2 separate regions of the Homo sapiens genome follow, and region 2 is linked to region 1. A link means that fine-mapping ties the variant in region 1 to the expression of a gene that starts in the linked region. Tissue or cell type: blood mononuclear cells. Region 1 holds a variant in brackets; the other region holds the start of a gene. All regions are shown on one strand. Distances are from middle to middle.

What was found. PIP is the estimated chance that this variant, and not a neighbour inherited with it, causes the effect.
Region 2: it holds the start of RBM23, and the variant in region 1 is fine-mapped to the expression of RBM23 in blood mononuclear cells (TOPMed, PIP above 0.99).

Annotation. Positions count from the first base shown.
Region 1 is chr14:22,938,196-22,946,294 of GRCh38, forward strand. It overlaps HAUS4 (HAUS augmin like complex subunit 4), which reads right to left. Exons shown (of 10, transcript NM_001166269.2): 10 at 8,033-8,099. The region is part of intron 2 of PRMT5-DT (PRMT5 divergent transcript); the gene reads left to right. Among named protein-coding and RNA genes, the nearest start is that of TRR-ACG1-3, 13 kb to the left of the region's middle. The variant G/A (reference allele first, on the strand shown) is at 3,183.
Region 2 is chr14:22,914,471-22,922,565 of GRCh38, forward strand. RBM23 (RNA binding motif protein 23) reads right to left here and starts at 4,679. Exons shown (of 14, transcript NM_001077351.2): 1 at 4,529-4,679. PRMT5 (protein arginine methyltransferase 5) reads right to left here. Exons shown (of 17, transcript NM_006109.5): 15 at 7,973-8,089; 16 at 7,706-7,770; 17 at 6,059-6,586. The coding sequence ends at 6,434. It overlaps PRMT5-AS1 (PRMT5 antisense RNA 1), which reads left to right and starts at 4,986. Exons shown (of 2, transcript NR_120600.1): 1 at 4,986-6,650. RefSeq lists enhancers at 2,731-3,495, 3,984-4,153, 4,224-4,333, 4,424-4,493 and a silencer at 4,754-5,053.

The DNA of each region.
Region 1 (8,099 bases):
GGATTATAGGCATGAGCCACCATACCCTGCCCAGGCTAATATTAATTAAGCTCTACCACATGCCAGGCACTTTAAATATATTATCTCAAAAGGCTGGGCGCAGTGGGTCATACCTGTAATCCCAGCACTTTGGGAGGCCAAGGTCAGCAGATCACTTGATGTCAGGAGTTCAAGAACAGCTTGGCCAATATAGTAAAACCCCATCTCTACTAAAAACACAAAAAAATTAGCTGAGCCTGGTGGTGCACTTATAATTGTAGTTACTTGGGAGGCTGAGGCAGGAGAATCGCTTGAACCCAGGAGGCGGAGGTTGCGGTGAGCCAAGATAGCGCCATTGAACTCCAGCCTGGGCAACAAGAGCGAAACTCCTTCTCAAAAAAAAAAAAAAAGAAAAAAAAGGAAACAAATATTTTAAAATTTTCTCAGCCCGTTGCAGTGGCTTACCCTTGTGATCCTAACACTTTTGGGAGGCAGAGGTGGGAGGACTGCTTGAGCCCAGGAGCTCCAGACTAACCTGAGCAACAGAGTGAGACCACGTCTCTGCAAAACAAAACAAAACAAAAACCCAGCATGGTGGCACGTGCCTGTAGTCCTAGCTACTAGGGAGGCTGTGGTGGGAGGATCCTTTGAGCCAAGGAGGTTGAGGCTGCAGCTGCACTCCAGCCTGGTTGACAGAGTAAGACCCTGTCTCCCAGAAAAAGAAAACAAACAAGCAAAAAAACTGGGCAAAGGACATGAACAGACACTTCTCTAAAGAAGACATAGATGTTGCCAACAAATATATGGAAAAAATGTTCAATATTACTAATCATTAGAGAAAGGCAAATCAAAACCGCAATAAGATACCATCTCACACCAGTCAGAATGGCTATTATTAAAAAGTCATGCCGGGCGCAGTGGCTCACACCTGTAATCCCAGCACTTTGGGAGGCCGAGACGGGTGGATCACGAGGTCAGATCGAGACCATCCTGGCTAACACAGTGAAACCCTGCCTCTACTAAAAATACAAAAAATTAGCCGGGCGCAGTGGCGGGTACCTGTAGTCCCAGCTACTCGGGAGGCTGAGGCAGGAGAATGGCGTGAACCCGGTAGGTGGAGCTTGCAGTGAGCAGAGATCGTGCCACTGCACTATAGCCTGGGCGACAGAGCAAAACTCTGTCTCAAAAAAAAAAAAAAATGAAAATTAAAAAGTCATGGCTGGGCTGGGCACGGTGGCTCATGCCTGTAATCTCAGCACTTTGGGAGGCCAAGACGGGTGGATCACCTGAGGTCAGGAGTTCGAGACCAGCCTGACCGACATGGTGAAACCCCGTCTCTACTAAAGATACAAAAAAATTAGCCGGGCGTGGTGGCAGGCGCCTGTAATCCCAGCTACTCGGGAGGCTGAGGCAGGAGAATCGCTTGAACCCAGGGGGTGGAGGTTGCAGTGAGCCGAGATCATGCCGCTGTATTCCAGCCTGGGTGACAGAGCAAGACTCCGTCTCAAAAAAAAAAAAAAAAAAGAAAGAAAGAAAGAAAAATAAATTAATGTGAGAATAGAAAACAAAACACCGCTAGTTCTCACTTATAAGTGAGAGCTAAACATTGAGCACACACGGACATAAAGATGGAAATAGACACTGGGGACTGCTAGAAGGGGAAGGGAGGGAGGTACTATGCTCACTAACTGGGTGACGGGATCATTCATACACTAACCCTCAGTGACACACAGTTTACTCATGTAACAAACTTGCACACGTACCCCCTGAGCCTAAAATGAAAGTTGGAAAAAAAAAAAACTGTAGCATTACTTCTGCTTGTTTTCAGCCTGCTGGCCTGCCCTACAGATTTTAGACTTGCCAGCTCCCATAATCACATGAGCCAATGAGCCAATTCTTTAAAATAAATCATATATAGATCTTTTTTTTTTTTTTTTTTTGAGACACAGTCTGACTCTGTTGCCCAGTCTGGAGTGCAGTGGTGTGATCTCGGCTCACTGCAACCTCTGCCTCTAGGATTCAAGCAATTCTCCTGCCTCAGCCTCCCAAGTAGCTGGGACTATAGGCGCGAGCCACCATGCCCGGCTAATTTTTGTATTTTTAGTAGAGACAGGGTTTCGCCATGTTGGCCAGGATGGTCTCAAACTCCTGACCTCAGGTGATCCACCTGCCTCGGCCTCCCAAAGTGCTGGGATTACAGGCATAAGCTACAGCGCCCAGCCAACCTTACTCTTTAGATAACCCTTTTCTAAATCCTAGGCAGGTCATTTGCTGTTGGTTACACACTATTTAGCCAGGCTTGGTAAATTTAGGACTCTCCAAACTTCAGTTGTTTTTTCCTGAGACCAGAAGTTAGCCACTTTGGCTGGACCTCAGCAACTCAAAAACAAACCATCTTTTAGAGTAAATTATTTCTACACATTGTTTAGTCCATTGTAAATTCACTCGTATTTTTGCTGTCTCAAGGGATAAGGAAGCCTGCTAGTTCCTTTAACAAAACCTAGTCCAGGTCCTTCAAGATGGATCATATGGAGAGATTCTTTTTTTTTTCTTTTCGAAAGAGAGTCTTGCTTTGTCGCCCAGGATGGAGTGTAGTGGCCCCATCTCACCTCGCCTTACTGCAGCCTCCACCTCCCAGGTTCAAGCTATTATAATGCCTCAGCCTCCCAATTACAGGTGCGCACCACCACACCTGGCTAATTTTGTATTTTTCAGTAGAGACCTGGTTTCACCATGTTGGCCAGGCTCGTCTCAAACTCCTCACCTCAAGTGATCCGCCTGCCTCAGCCTCCCCTCCAAAAATTGCCGGGATTACAGGCGTAAGCCACCGCGCCCAGCCAATATGGAGAGATTCTTTATAGGGTGAGGGGCACCCTTCTCCTTTGGAGATGCCAAAGTTGGCCCTTAGGGGGCGCTGGGTCTCCTGTTTGTGGTGGCCGAGGAAGAATGCAGTCACTCCCCAGGACACCTCCATATTCACCTTTCACTGAAAATATTCAGGGAACAGATTTTGTTTATCCAAGAGTCCCAGAGTTGATCCTGTTCCAAGTTCTGAAGGTGATTTCCTTTGCCTCTCATTACAAGGGAAGAATCTATAAGACTTACCAGATGTGGTAAGAGGCAAGTAAAGAGAGGTTCGACTGTGAAAGAACGAAGGGAGGCAGTAAATGCAAATCTTTTCTAAGCAGTGTGAGGGAAAGAGA[G/A]CAGCTAAGGTCCAAGATGCTAACCCTCAACTGTCACTTTCTTTTTTTTTGAGAAGGAGTCTCGCTCTGTTGCCAGGCCTGGAGTGCAGTGGCGCGATCTCGGCTCACTGCAACCTCTGCCTCCCAGATTCAAGTGATTCTCCTGCCTCAGCCTCCCGAGTAGCTGGGACTACAGGTGTGCACCACCACGCCTGGCTAATTTTTGTATTTTTAGTAGAGACGAGGTTTTGCCATGTTGGCCAGGATGGTCCCAATCTCTTGACCTCGTGATCCACCTGCCTCAGCCTCCCAAAGTGCTGGGATTACAGGCGTGAGCCATGGCGCCCGGCCCCTCAGCTGTCACTTTCATGCAGACCCTTCTACTTGTCCTCCAAAGCTCCTTCCCATATTTGCCACAATAGAGAGCAGCATGTATGAAGGGCACCTCCAACAAGTCTTCCACCTCCAGTCAATGTGCAGAATGAATGCACCAAGAGAAACAGCTGTAGTGCTCCCTCAGGCCGCAGTGGACATGATTTTTGTTCCTTTTCCCCTACGAAGGAACTGTTTTGAAAGTTTTTTTTTCCACCAGACTACATTCATAAGCTCAATCAGTAGTTTATTTTTTTCTGGTCGGGCGCAGTGGCTCATGCCTGTAATCCCAGCACTTTGAGAGGCCGAGGACAGGCGTGTCACCTGAAGTCAGGAGTTCGAAACCAGCCTGGCCAACGTGGCAATACCCTGTCTCTACTAAAAATACAAAAATTAGCTGTATGTGGTGGCACGCGCCTGTAATCCCAGTTACTCGGGAGGCTGAGGCAAGAGAATCGCTTGAACCTGGGAGGCGGAGGTTGCAGTGAGCCGAGAACATGCCACTGCTCCCAGCCTGGGCAAGAGTCAGACTCTGTCTCCAAAAAAAAAAAAAAAGTTTATTTTTCCCATAAAATAACTAATATACTGATTTACTGTAATACCAGCAGAAAGCAAAGGCACCTGAGCAAGATATATGTGCAATGACATCCAATGAAGCATTTTTGTAACAGGGCAAGAGGGAAACAACCTTAATATCGTGAAGGGAAGGGTTAAATGATAATACAGCCATACTCTAATAATAATATTAGCCACATTTTTAAAACTTTTTCTTTATTGATTTGATTTTTAGAGACAAAGGTCTTGCTCTGTCACCTGGGCTGGAGTACCTTGGCACAATCATAGTTCACTGCAGCCTCTAACTACTAGGCTCAGCCTCCTGAGTAGCTAGGGCTATCAGAGCACCACCATGCCCAGCTAATATTAGCTAATATTTATGTACATATGGTTGCATATTTATAGAAACAGATCTGACACACAGTGATCTACACACCAAATCACTCTGGTTACTCTGGGGAGGTAGATTGGAGTAACAGGGTATTTGTGTGGGGGGTGTCTGAGGGTGCATGGTTCAATCTTTTACTTTTTACTGTATATAATTCTGTTCTGAGTATTTTTACAAAGCATGTGCTCTAGTTGTTTTTGTTTGTTTGTTTGTTTTTTAAGATGGAGTTTCGCTCTTGTTGCGCAGGCTGGAGTGCAATGGCGCGATCTCGGCTCACCGCAACTTCTGCCTCCTGGGTTCAAGCGATTCTCCTGCCTCAGCCTCCCTAGTAGCTGGGATTACAGGCATGTGCCACCACACCCGGCTAATTTTGTATTTTCAGTAGAGACGGGGTTTCTCCATGTTGCTCAGGCTGGTCTCAAACTCCCAACCTCAGGTGATCCACCCACCTCGGCCTCCCAAAGTGCTGGGATTACAGGCGTGAGCCACCACGCCCAGCCTGCATGTGCTCTAGTTTTAAGCCAATGAAGTTTTTTAAAAAATAGTTTGGGCCGGGCGCAGTGGCTCACACCTGTAATCCCACCACTTTGGTAGGCTGAGGCGGGCGGATCACGAGGTCAGGCGATCGAGACCATCCTGGCTAACACGGTGAAACCCCGTCTCTACTAAAAATACAAAAAATTAGCCGGGCGTGGTGGTGGGCGCCTATAGTCCCAGCTACTTGGGAGATTGAGACAGGAGAAGGGCATGAACCCAGGAGGCGGAGGTTGCAGTGAACTGAGATCGGGCCACTGCCCTCCAGCCCAGGTGACAGAGCAAGACTCCGTCTCAAAAAAAAAAAAAAAAAAAAAGTTTGTGCAGGGCCGGGCGCGGTGGTGGCTCACGCCTGTTATCCTAGCACTTTGGGAGGCTGAGGCAGGTGGATCACCTGAAGTCGGGAGTTCGAGACCAGCCTGACCAACATGGAGAAACCTCATCTCTAATAAAAATACAAAATTAGCTGGGCGTGGTGGCGCATGCTGTAATCCTAGCTACTTGGGAGGCTGAGGCAGGAGAATCACTTGAACCTAGGAGGCAGAGATTGCAATAAACCAAGATTGCGCCATTGCACGATCCAGCCTGGGCAACAAGAGCGAAACTCCATCTCAAAAAAAAAAAAAAAAAAAAGTGTGTGGAGAACTGTCGCAAGCAAATGTTCCATTTTCTTTTCTTTTTTTTTTTTTTGAGACAGAGTCTCACTCTGTAGCCCAAGCTAGAGTGAAGTGGCACGATCTTGGCTCACTGCAACCTCCGCCTCCCGGGGCTCAAGCAATTCTCGTGCCTCAGCCTCCTGAGTAGCTGGGACTACAGGCACGCATCACCACACCCAGCTAATTTTTTTATTTTAGTAGAGATGGGGTTTCACCATGTTGCCCAGGGTGGTCTCTAACTCCCGAGCTCAGGCAATCTGCCCACCTCCGCCTCCCAAAATGCTGGGATTACAGGCATGAGCCACTGTGCCCAGCCCATTTTCTTTAGGCTTTTTAAGAATACAAGAAATAGCTCACTCTCCATCCCCATGCCATTTAGAGAGCCAGGGTGAGGACCACTGCCTTGGAAGCCATTTCTCAGGCAGTCGAAATTGAAATGTTTCTCAAACCCCAGCTCTCCAGATTCTCGATTGAAGCTATAGGATATTTGTTTCAAATTTTGTTCACTTGAAATGAAAGCTCTCCTTGGTACATGATTTGCCCATTCTTAACTCTGTGCCTTCCCATAGTGCTTCTTTCCTTTTCTCTGTCTTCGCTGCTTTTTCCATAACTCTATTCCTTTTTCTTTTTTTTGAGACAGAATCTTGCTGTCACTCAGGCTGTAATACAGTGACATGATCATAGCTCACTGTAACCTCAACCTCCCAGACTCAAGCAGTCCTCCCACCTTAGCCTCCTGAGTAGCTGGAAATGTAGGCACATGCCACTATGCACAGCTAATTAAAAAAAATTTTTTTGGCCAGGTGCAGTGGCTCATGCCTGTAATCCCAGCACTTTGGGAGGCCGAGGCGGGCGGATCACAAGGTCAGGAGTTCGAGACCAGCAAGGCCAATATGGTGAAACCCTGTCTCTACTAAAAATACAAAAATTAGCCAGGCGTGGTGGTGGGTGCCTGTAGTCCCAACTACTCAGGAGACTGAGGCAGGAGAATCACTTGAACCCAGGAGGCAGAGATTGCAGTGAGCCGAGATTGCGCCACTGCACTCCAGCCTGGGCGACAGAGCGAGACTCCGTCTCAAAAAAAAAAAAAAAAAAAAAAAAAAAAAAGAGAAAAAAAAGTTGAGTCAAAGACATTAATTGTCTTGTAAATAAATCCACACCATCACCCCAAGACAATTTCCTTGGAAAGTGGTTTCAGAAACTGAGTAGGCTCTTCTAAATAAAGGTAGAGGCCTTCTGTTTCTGTCCACAGTCCCCTATTTTGACACCAGCCAGGACTCTGCCTTGTTCTAAGCTAAGTAGACTGTTGAACTTGGTTCCTCAGGGGGAATCTCCTCCAAACCTCTGCTTTTAGAGAAAAATGTAGCTCTCAAACCACACCAAGGGAACCAGGAACACAAGTGGCTTGTGTCCTTTCCTATAACTGAGCTGGCCACTGGCTGCCTTTTTTTTTTTTTTTTTTTTTTTTGAGACAAGGTCTCACTCTGTCACCCAGGCTGAGTGCAGTGGTGCCATCATGGCTCACTGCAGCCTTGACCTCCTGGGTTCAAGTGATCCTCCTGCCTCAGCCTCCTGAGAAATTGGCACTACAGGCACATACCATCACGCTTGCTAATTAAAAAAATTTTTTTCAGCTGGGTGTGGTTGCTCATGCCTGTAATCCCAGCACTTTGGGAGGCCAAGGTGGGCGGATCACTTGAGGTCAGGAGTTTGAGACCAACCTGACCAACATAGTAAAACCCTGTCTCTACTAAAATACAAACATTAGCTGGCCATGGTGGTGCATGCCTGTTAATTCCAGCTACTAGGGAGGCTGATACACAAGAATTGCTTGAGCCTGGGAGGCGGAGGCTGCAGTGAGCTGAGATCACACCACTGCACTCCAGCCTGGCAACAAAGTAAGACTCTGTCTAAAAAAAAAAAAAAAAAATTTTTTTTCACAGAGACAGGGGTCTTGCTACGTTGCCCAGGCTGGTCTCGAACAGCTGGGCTCAAGTGATCCTCTTGCCTTGGCCTCCCAAAGTGCTGGAATTACAGGTGTGAGTCACTGCTCCCAGCCTCAGCTGCTTTATTATAACTCCCACACTGATACCCATAGTGAGAAAATAGTTCCCTACCTGCCTGAGTATCTAGCACTCCTCTGGAGATTATAGTTCTTCAAGAGCAAGCCCAAATTTAATCCACTGTACTCTTCCAAAATGAAGGCTCTAAGACTTGATGTAGGCAAGCTGGCATGTCTACTTCTTACTCTTTGCATAAGCATCATGTATCTGTTTCTATTTGGATCCACTCAGTTCCCCGCTCCTTACCCATATAGCCTTCAATGTTCTTTTTCAATCTTTGCCCAAGGAAAATGACTAAAATCCTAAGATATAATATCATAACTTTATTCAGGAGATAATCAAATACAATACAGGGCTGACACTGACACAC
Region 2 (8,095 bases), 24 kb before region 1:
GACACAGCGAGACTGTCTCAAAAATACAAAAACAAACAAATCTTTGGGAGTGATGGTTTCACGGGTGTTTAACATATCAAAACGCATGAAAGTGTACACTTTAATGTATACAGTTTTATCGTGTGCCCATTAAATGTACCTCAATCATGCCGTTAAAAAAAAAAACCTGAGGAATTTCTATGCAAGGAGGCTATCATAATCAGACTTTTTCATAACTGTAAGAACTTTGTTGGCCAGCCGTGGTGGCTCACCCTGTAATCCCAGTACTTTGGGAGGCCAAGGTGGGTGGATCACCTGAGGTCAGGAGTTCAATACCAGCCTGACGGATATGGTGAAACCTCATCCCCATTAAAGACACAAAAATTAGCCGGGCATGGTGGTGGGCGCCTGTAGTCCCAGCTACTCAAGAGGCTAAGACAGGAGAATCGCTTGAACCTGGGAGGCAGAGGTTGCAGTGAGCCGAGATCACACCACTGCACTCCAGCCTGGGTGTAAGATGGAGTAAGACTCCATCTCAAAAAAAAAAAAAAAAAAGAGGAACTTTGTCCTCTTTAAAGCAGCTAATGCACTATGCAACAATGCTGCCTTGGTTGCCCTAAGAGTCCATATCCTATTTTGACAATTAAATAAGTGTAATAATTACAACTATGATTCTATGACTTACAGTACCTACAACTGCTAGACACTGTGCTAAGCATGTTATGGAGAGAGAAGATTCTTAGAGAAAAATTACTTGGAGCCAAATTTAAGGCTTAAATGGAAATTAAACCCAAATCAAATTGGTATACATAAAAACCAGTAAACTCAATTGCCTCTGCCTCCCAGGTTCAAGCAACTCTCCTGCCTCAGCCTCCTGAGTAGCTGGGATTACAGGCATGCGCCACCACATCCAGCTAATTTTGTATTTTTAGTAGAGACCAGGTTTTCCGTGTTAGTCAGGCTGGTCTCGAACTCTCGACCTCAGGTGATCCGACCGCCTCGCCCTCCCAAAGTGCTGGGATTACAGGCATAAGCCCCATGCCTGGCTTTTTTTTTTTTTTTTTGAGAAGGAGTCTAGCTCTGTTGTCCAGGCTGGAGTGCGGTGGCACAATCTCAGTTCACGCCAACCTCTGCCTCCCAGGTTCAAGCGATTCTCCTGCCTCAGCCTCCTGAGTAGCTGGGATTACAGGTGCCCGCCACTACGTCCCACTAATTTTTGTATTTTTAGTAGAGACAAAGTTTCACCATGTTGGCCAGGCTGGTCTCAAACTCCTGACCTCAGGTAATCCGCCTGCCTCGGCCTCCCAGTGCTGGGATTACAGGCATGAGCCACTGTGCCCGGCCTTCTACTTCTTCCAGTAACACTTTATATTTATTTAGCAATCAAAGGTAACAAATGCTGCAGACAGGTAATATATGATTCATACCCAAATTTTTTAAAACTAACGTTTTTTGAACTGCTCAAAGTCATACATAGCTCAAGGGCCAGGCAGAGGGGGTGGCTCACGCCTGCAATCTCAGCACTTTGGGAAGCTAAGGCTGGAGAATGGCTTGAGGCCAAGTCAAAATCAGCCTGGGCAATACAGTGAGGCCCCATTTTTACAAAAAATATAAAAATTAGCCACGCATGGTGGTGCGTGCCTGTAGTCCCAACTACTCAGGAGCCTGAAATGGAAGGATCGCTTGAACCCAGGAAGTTGAGGCTGCAGTGAACTGTGATCATGCCGCTGCAATCCAGTCTGTGCAGCAGATTGAGATTCTGTCTCAATCCCCAAAACAGAGAAGGTCACACAGCTCAAAGGGAAGAATGTTTTTTTTTTTTTTTGAGACAGGATTTCACTCTGTTGCCCAAGCTGGAGTGTAATGTTGCAATCTCGGCTCACTGCAACCTCTGCCTCTCTAGCTCAAGCAATCCTCTAACCTCAGCTTCCCCAGTAGCTGGGACCACAGGTGTGCACTATGATGCCAGGCTAACTTTTCATATTTTGGGCTTTTTTTTTTTTTCTGGTAGAGACATGGTCTCACTATGTTGCCCAGGCTGGTCTCAAACTCCCGGACTCAACAGATCCACCCACCTTAGCCTCCCAAAGTACTAGGATTACATCTGGCCAGAGGAGCTAATTCTTGATCAGAAAGGTTTTCTGACTTCAAATCTAACATTATATCTATTATATCAGATTACTTCTCATATGGTTTGTAATTAACTTTAAAGGAAAAAAAAAAGGACACAGTATACCAAGATACCTACTTTTAAATATATACTCACTGAACATGAATGTTCTTCTCATATGTTTATCAAAATAATCAGTCCCATTAGCTAAACCTCATTGTGAGTCTCCTATATCTGAGGCATGTACAGTGTATGCTTAAAGGTATTAGACTAATATACACTATGGGAAAATAGTTCTAAAAAGAAAAGTTTGTTTTTGTTTTTTTTTGAGAGAGTTTCACTCTTGTTGCCCAGGATGGAGTGCAATGGCGCAATCTCGGCTCACTGCGACCTCCACCTCCCAGGTTCAAGCAATTCTCCTGTCTCAGTCTCCCAAGTAGCTGGGATTACAGGCAGGCACCACCACACCTGGCTAATGTTGTATTTTTAGCAGAGACGGGGTTTCTCCACATTGGTCAGGCTGGTCTCGAACTCCTGACCTCAGGTGATCCGCCTGCCTGGTCCTCCCAAAGGGCTGGGATTACAGACATGAGCCACCGAGCCCGGCCTAAAAAGAAAAGTTTTTTATACTCAAGCTGTTTCAGTCATTTTTGCTGCCAAGTCTACACAAATTTTCTGTTATGAACTATTTTTTACAATCTGCTTTTTCCCCTCCAAATGAAATGCTTGATTTCAAGAACTGCTCATTGTTGAGTGCTAATGCGGGGTAAGAACAACTTAACACACACACTAAAACTTACACTTAAGTTTACAAGCCTCTACAAATAAACCTCTACGTAAAAAGTTTTCACTCAGAAACAAATATATCCGTTTAAGCAAAGCCATATACAACACAATATTTTGAAACTTGCAATCTCACTGGGTTTAGTGTCTTTCTAGATGTGCTAAAAGCAATAAGGTAGCAAACACTATGCATTTTCAGGCTGGTAGTTTTTTCTTTTTTCTTCTTTTTTGTTTTTTTTTTGTATTTTTAGTAGAGACGGGGTTTCGCCGTGTTAGCCAGGATGGTCGCGATCTCCTGACCTCGTGATCCGCCCGCCTCGGCCACCCAAAGTGCTGGGATTACAGGCGTGAGCCACTGCACCCGGCCCAGGTTGGTAGTTTTCAAACGCTCTCTTCATGTCCCAACTTATGGGTCAAGGTCCACTCAATCTCATCCACATAGAGTATGTTTTCTTCCATCCTGCTCCAAAAACAGTATTAGAGACCCACAATCACGTCAGTTCCTAGACCTCGTCATAGCACAAGCCAACAGATAGACCCCACTGCTAAAGGAGCAGAGAGAACCACTGTCAGACCAATTCGGGAAGAATTCACGAAAAGCTGGAGCCCCAGGGGTGATGGTAGCGCCATCCCCAGGGTCTGATCACTTAGCTGGGCACAAACACCTACAAACTGAAGGCAGCTTAACAAAAGAGGAACAATGAGAACGATAAAAGCTACTTGAAGGACCACCCTCCCCATGTTGTGTAGCTTTAAAAAATGGTCCTATAGGCCGGGCGCGGTGGCTCACGCCTGTAATCCCAGCACTTTGGGAGGCCGAGGCGGGTGGATCACCTGAGGTCAGGAGTTCGAGGTCAGCCTGGCTAACATGGCAAAACCCCATCTCTATTAAAAATACAAAAATTAGCCGGGCGTTGTGGCAGGCGCCTGTAATCCCAGCTACTCGGGAGGCTGAGGCAGGGGAATCGCTAGAACCCGGGAGACAGGATGCAGTGAGCCGAGATCGCGCCACTCCACTCCAGCCTGGGTGACAAAGCGACACTCCGCCTTAAAAAAATAAAAAAAAAGAGGTCCTATAGGCAACCAACTGGCACAATCTCTGCGGGAGCCAGTGTCCCAGGGCTCAATCTTCATATGTGGCATCATAATACGCCTACTGGAATGAGTGCTTGAAAAAGTTAAATGGGAAAAGCCCATAAAGGTCAACATAGTGAACATGAATCTTCGACAGACTAGAGATTGAGGAAGAAAGCTCAATTCCCTTCTCTCTCTCTGAATGGTGGTGCGAGTGGCTGAAACTGATGATGCGTGTCCTCTCAGGCCGCGGAGGGTCGATGCTCCCTCTCCAGTGTGGGCGACCCTAAGTGTCACGGCTGCAGAGACCCGGAAAGAAAAATCACAGGATTCTAGAAACCGCATCTTTATCGGTGCAAGATACAGCCACGAGGGTGCCCAACTCTAAAATCGTGGCAGTGGGCTACATTTAAGTAGCTAACACTTCCAGGTCAAAACAAACAAAGGTTTTTTTAATGTTAAAAGTTCGCCTGAATCTCTTCGTGACGCCATTTTCTGCCCGTGACGTCAGGGGGGAGGCGCCGTGCAGCAACGTCACGCATTGGTGACGTCTGGTGGGGACCGGGTTTTGGGGTTTCTCACCAGTTCCGGGTCCCCGCAGGGGGGTCCCGGTTCTCTCCGTTCCTTTGAGTATGTTGTGGGGAGTGGAGCTCGGATAGTTCCTAGAGTCTAGGCAAGAAAAGCAGCACTGCAGGTACAGAGCCTCCTCTTCCCGCAAAATGGCGGCAGCTCTGCCGTCTTCCAGAACCTTCCCCAATCTGCGCATGCGCCAAGACTCCCCGGCTTTGGAAATAACCTCACTGGTTTCGCGGCAACCGTCCAAAGTACAGGTTCTCATTGGCTAAAGTCCTAAGTATGGGTGGAGCAAACTCAAATGCGTCTTAGCAACCACCGAGTTCCCATTGATTGGCTAACCTCAGAGACTCCAGAAAATGGAAGCGTCCTTTGGTAGCCGCCCATCACTCTCTCATTGGTTAAATGACTTGCGGAGGGCGGGGAAAACGGGACTGAAAACGGGAGTGAAGAAGCCACCAACCCCACTCCTGGTGCTCGCGTAGACTAGACCAGTGCGATGGGCGGAGCCAACGAGGAGGCACAATTTACATCCTTGGCCGTCCCTACTCGGATTTGCTGAAGGAGTCACGTCGGTCGTTAAGGTTAAGCTTTGTAGAGAACAGCGGCGTTTGTTTAACGTCCGGGGATGCTGAACTCGAAATCCCCGTTCTGAGCCGGCTACCTAAACAACCTTCCCGACCACCTCTCCTGACCTCGGTGCTTGGGACCAGGGAAAAGCAGATCTTGCCACAGACTTGTCTTGGCCCACACTCTGCCCTATCGTCATGGCCTGCTCCCACAGGTCATAACTTCCGTTCAAATCAGTACCCCCACATTTCCCACTGCAAGGGTAAATTTGAAAGTTTCTCAGGTGACTCCTTGGATGTAGCAGTACTGAGTCCTCTAACCGGAAAGAAGGAACTGATGTCCACCCTCACTTTCCAGGGGCCTCCAGGAGCCCCTAGACACTTCTGTGGTCTACTGTAGCTACCAAAAATGTAGCTGGTTATAACATGGGGAGAGCCAGAGTCGGAGGACCTGACTTCCAATTCTGACTTGGATACTAATATCACATCATTGTACCCATTTCAAACTCCCCCTCTGTAAAATGGAAAATTGGACTAGATGATCTCTTAGGACTTCAAACTGTAACCCTGTGGTTTTATTCAAAAAAAACAGGTAGCTTCTTGCTGGAGATTCCTGGATGGATTCCAGTCTTCCCAAGAGGTAACAAAGGAGAGGTAACCAGTTGCCCGTGCAGTAGCTCAAGAATACAGAAGAGAAACTGGCTTCACTCACTATTCCATCTTTTTCCAAGGTGGCAAACTCTATGCCTCCTCCCCAGAGAAAAGCCTAACTGTAGGTTCTAATGGACAAGAGCTCACTGTAGCTGGTCAGAAAGGCCTATATCCAGGACTACAATAGTCATTGCTCAGCTTCCTAAGTAGGGAATACAACTAGGCCCCTTTGGGTCTTGGATAGGCTAAGAGGACAGATCTGAACATGCCTGGGTCTAAGTGAGGTGTGGGAAAATAGTGGCAGGGGGCAGCATGGTCGTGCAGTAAAGGGCTATAACTTTATTTGTATTTCCTCTTACACAAAACCATCAAAACAAGAACAGAAAAAGGCTGAAAATCCGTTCAAACCCCATGTTCTCAGGGATATTCCAGGGAGTTCTTGAGGCTGAGTGCGTAGCTTCAAATCCAGCACTAATTCCTCACCCCCTGGCCTGAGGTCTTCATAGATTGGTGGCTTGAGCCCTGCAATTAATTATAATCCCTTGCCCACCTTGATGTAAGGCAGGAAAGCAGATTGAAATGCTCCTCTCTGATGGGCAAGGGGAATCACAGCCCATAGATGTACTGCACCTTCTGTACTACAGGAGCAGAACCTGAAGCTGCTTCCAAGGCTCTGGACACTTGGCACGCAGGGCTAGAGGCCAATGGTATATGAGCGGCCTGTGGGGTTATGAATAGCAGAACAGACTGGTGCTGTCACAGCCCACTCATACCACACCTTCTTGGAATTGCTGCATCGCCAGAAACGCACACAGATGGTTTGGCCTTCACGTACCGTTATGGGCTGCTGTAAGAAGAAAGACAGGAAGGTTCAGGGTGAAGCTATGAATTATACATGGCAATGTATTAAGGTAGGTGTGGAGATAAAATGATAAACATGACAAGACTGTCCCAACCCTCATGAAAGTTATTTGAAGCCTATCAGAACACAAATAATCAAAGGTGTGGTGAGAGCTGTGAACATGTACAGAGTCAGAAAAACACCTATGAAAGGGAACACTAACCTAGTCTAGGAGATCAGAGAAAGTTTATCTCACAATAAAAATGTTTAAAGAAGACCTAGAAGATAGGTTAACTGTGTGAAGAGACAAGCAAAGAACTCTACAGGCAAGAGAAAGGCATGAAAGCCTGAGGTAGGAAAGAAGATAGACAATTAGAACAAAAAGAAGGTCCATAAGGCTGAAGCAGTGTAAGCAAGGGGACAGTAGCTGCAAAGGCAAGCAAACACTCGATCACATCAAGTCTTACAAGCAATGTCCCAGATTTTGACTTTTATCCTAAAGACAATGGGAAGGCATTGAAGAGTTTTAAGCAAAAAAGAGAGATAAGATCAGGCCAGGCGCGGTGGCTCACGCCTGTAATCCCAGCACTTTGGGAGGCTGAGGTGGGCGGATCATGAGGTCAGGAGATCGAGACCATCCTGGCTAACACGGTAAAACCCCGTCTCTACTAAAAATACAAGAATTAGCCGGGTGTGGTGGCTGGCACCTGTAATCTCAGCCTCAGGGAGGCTGAGGCAGGAGAATGGCATGAACCCGGGAGGCGGAGCTTGCAGTGAGCCGAAATTGTGCCACTGCACTCCAGCCTGGGCGACAGAGTGAGACTCCGTCTCTTTAAAAAAAAAAAAAAAAAAAAGACAGCAAGAGAGATAAGATCAAATTTGAGTTTTTAAAAGATGACTCTTGCTCAAAGTAGAGAACAGACAGAAGAGTAGCCAGAGTAGATGCGGGAAAGCCAGGCAGAAGGCCACTCCAAATACTCCCAACACCTACCACTGGGATCCAAGAGCATATGAAATCAGGAGAACATGAGTCATAGTCAACTATCTTCCTGGGAGAAGGAAAGAAGCACAACACCAAAGGCAAAGGTTACTGCTTAACTAGAGAGTCTTAAAAGCAGTTCCTACCTTAATAGGGAAGAGGATGGGAAACCATGAGAACATCCCAGGAGAGTGAGTCTCTGGACGGATACCTGTGTGGACAAAATAATGAAAAAACAGAGGTCTCCATGGCTGTGACTTTTGCCTATGCTGAAGAGGGTCTCTTCTCTAATCACACAAAGATCTCCATTCATTGAGCACTGGGCCCCCCATAAATCTAAATGACACATGTACATATAAGCTGCCCAGGAAGCACACCCTCATACTCTGCCATCTACTGCCATAGACACTCACTCAGAGTGATGTCCTGATAAAGCACAGTCTCAAAGTAGCCGGCAAAGCCATGTAGTACTGTGTTCACCTCCACAGGAAATTCCAAGGTGCAATAGCGGTTGTTGTCAATCATAGGATCTGTCA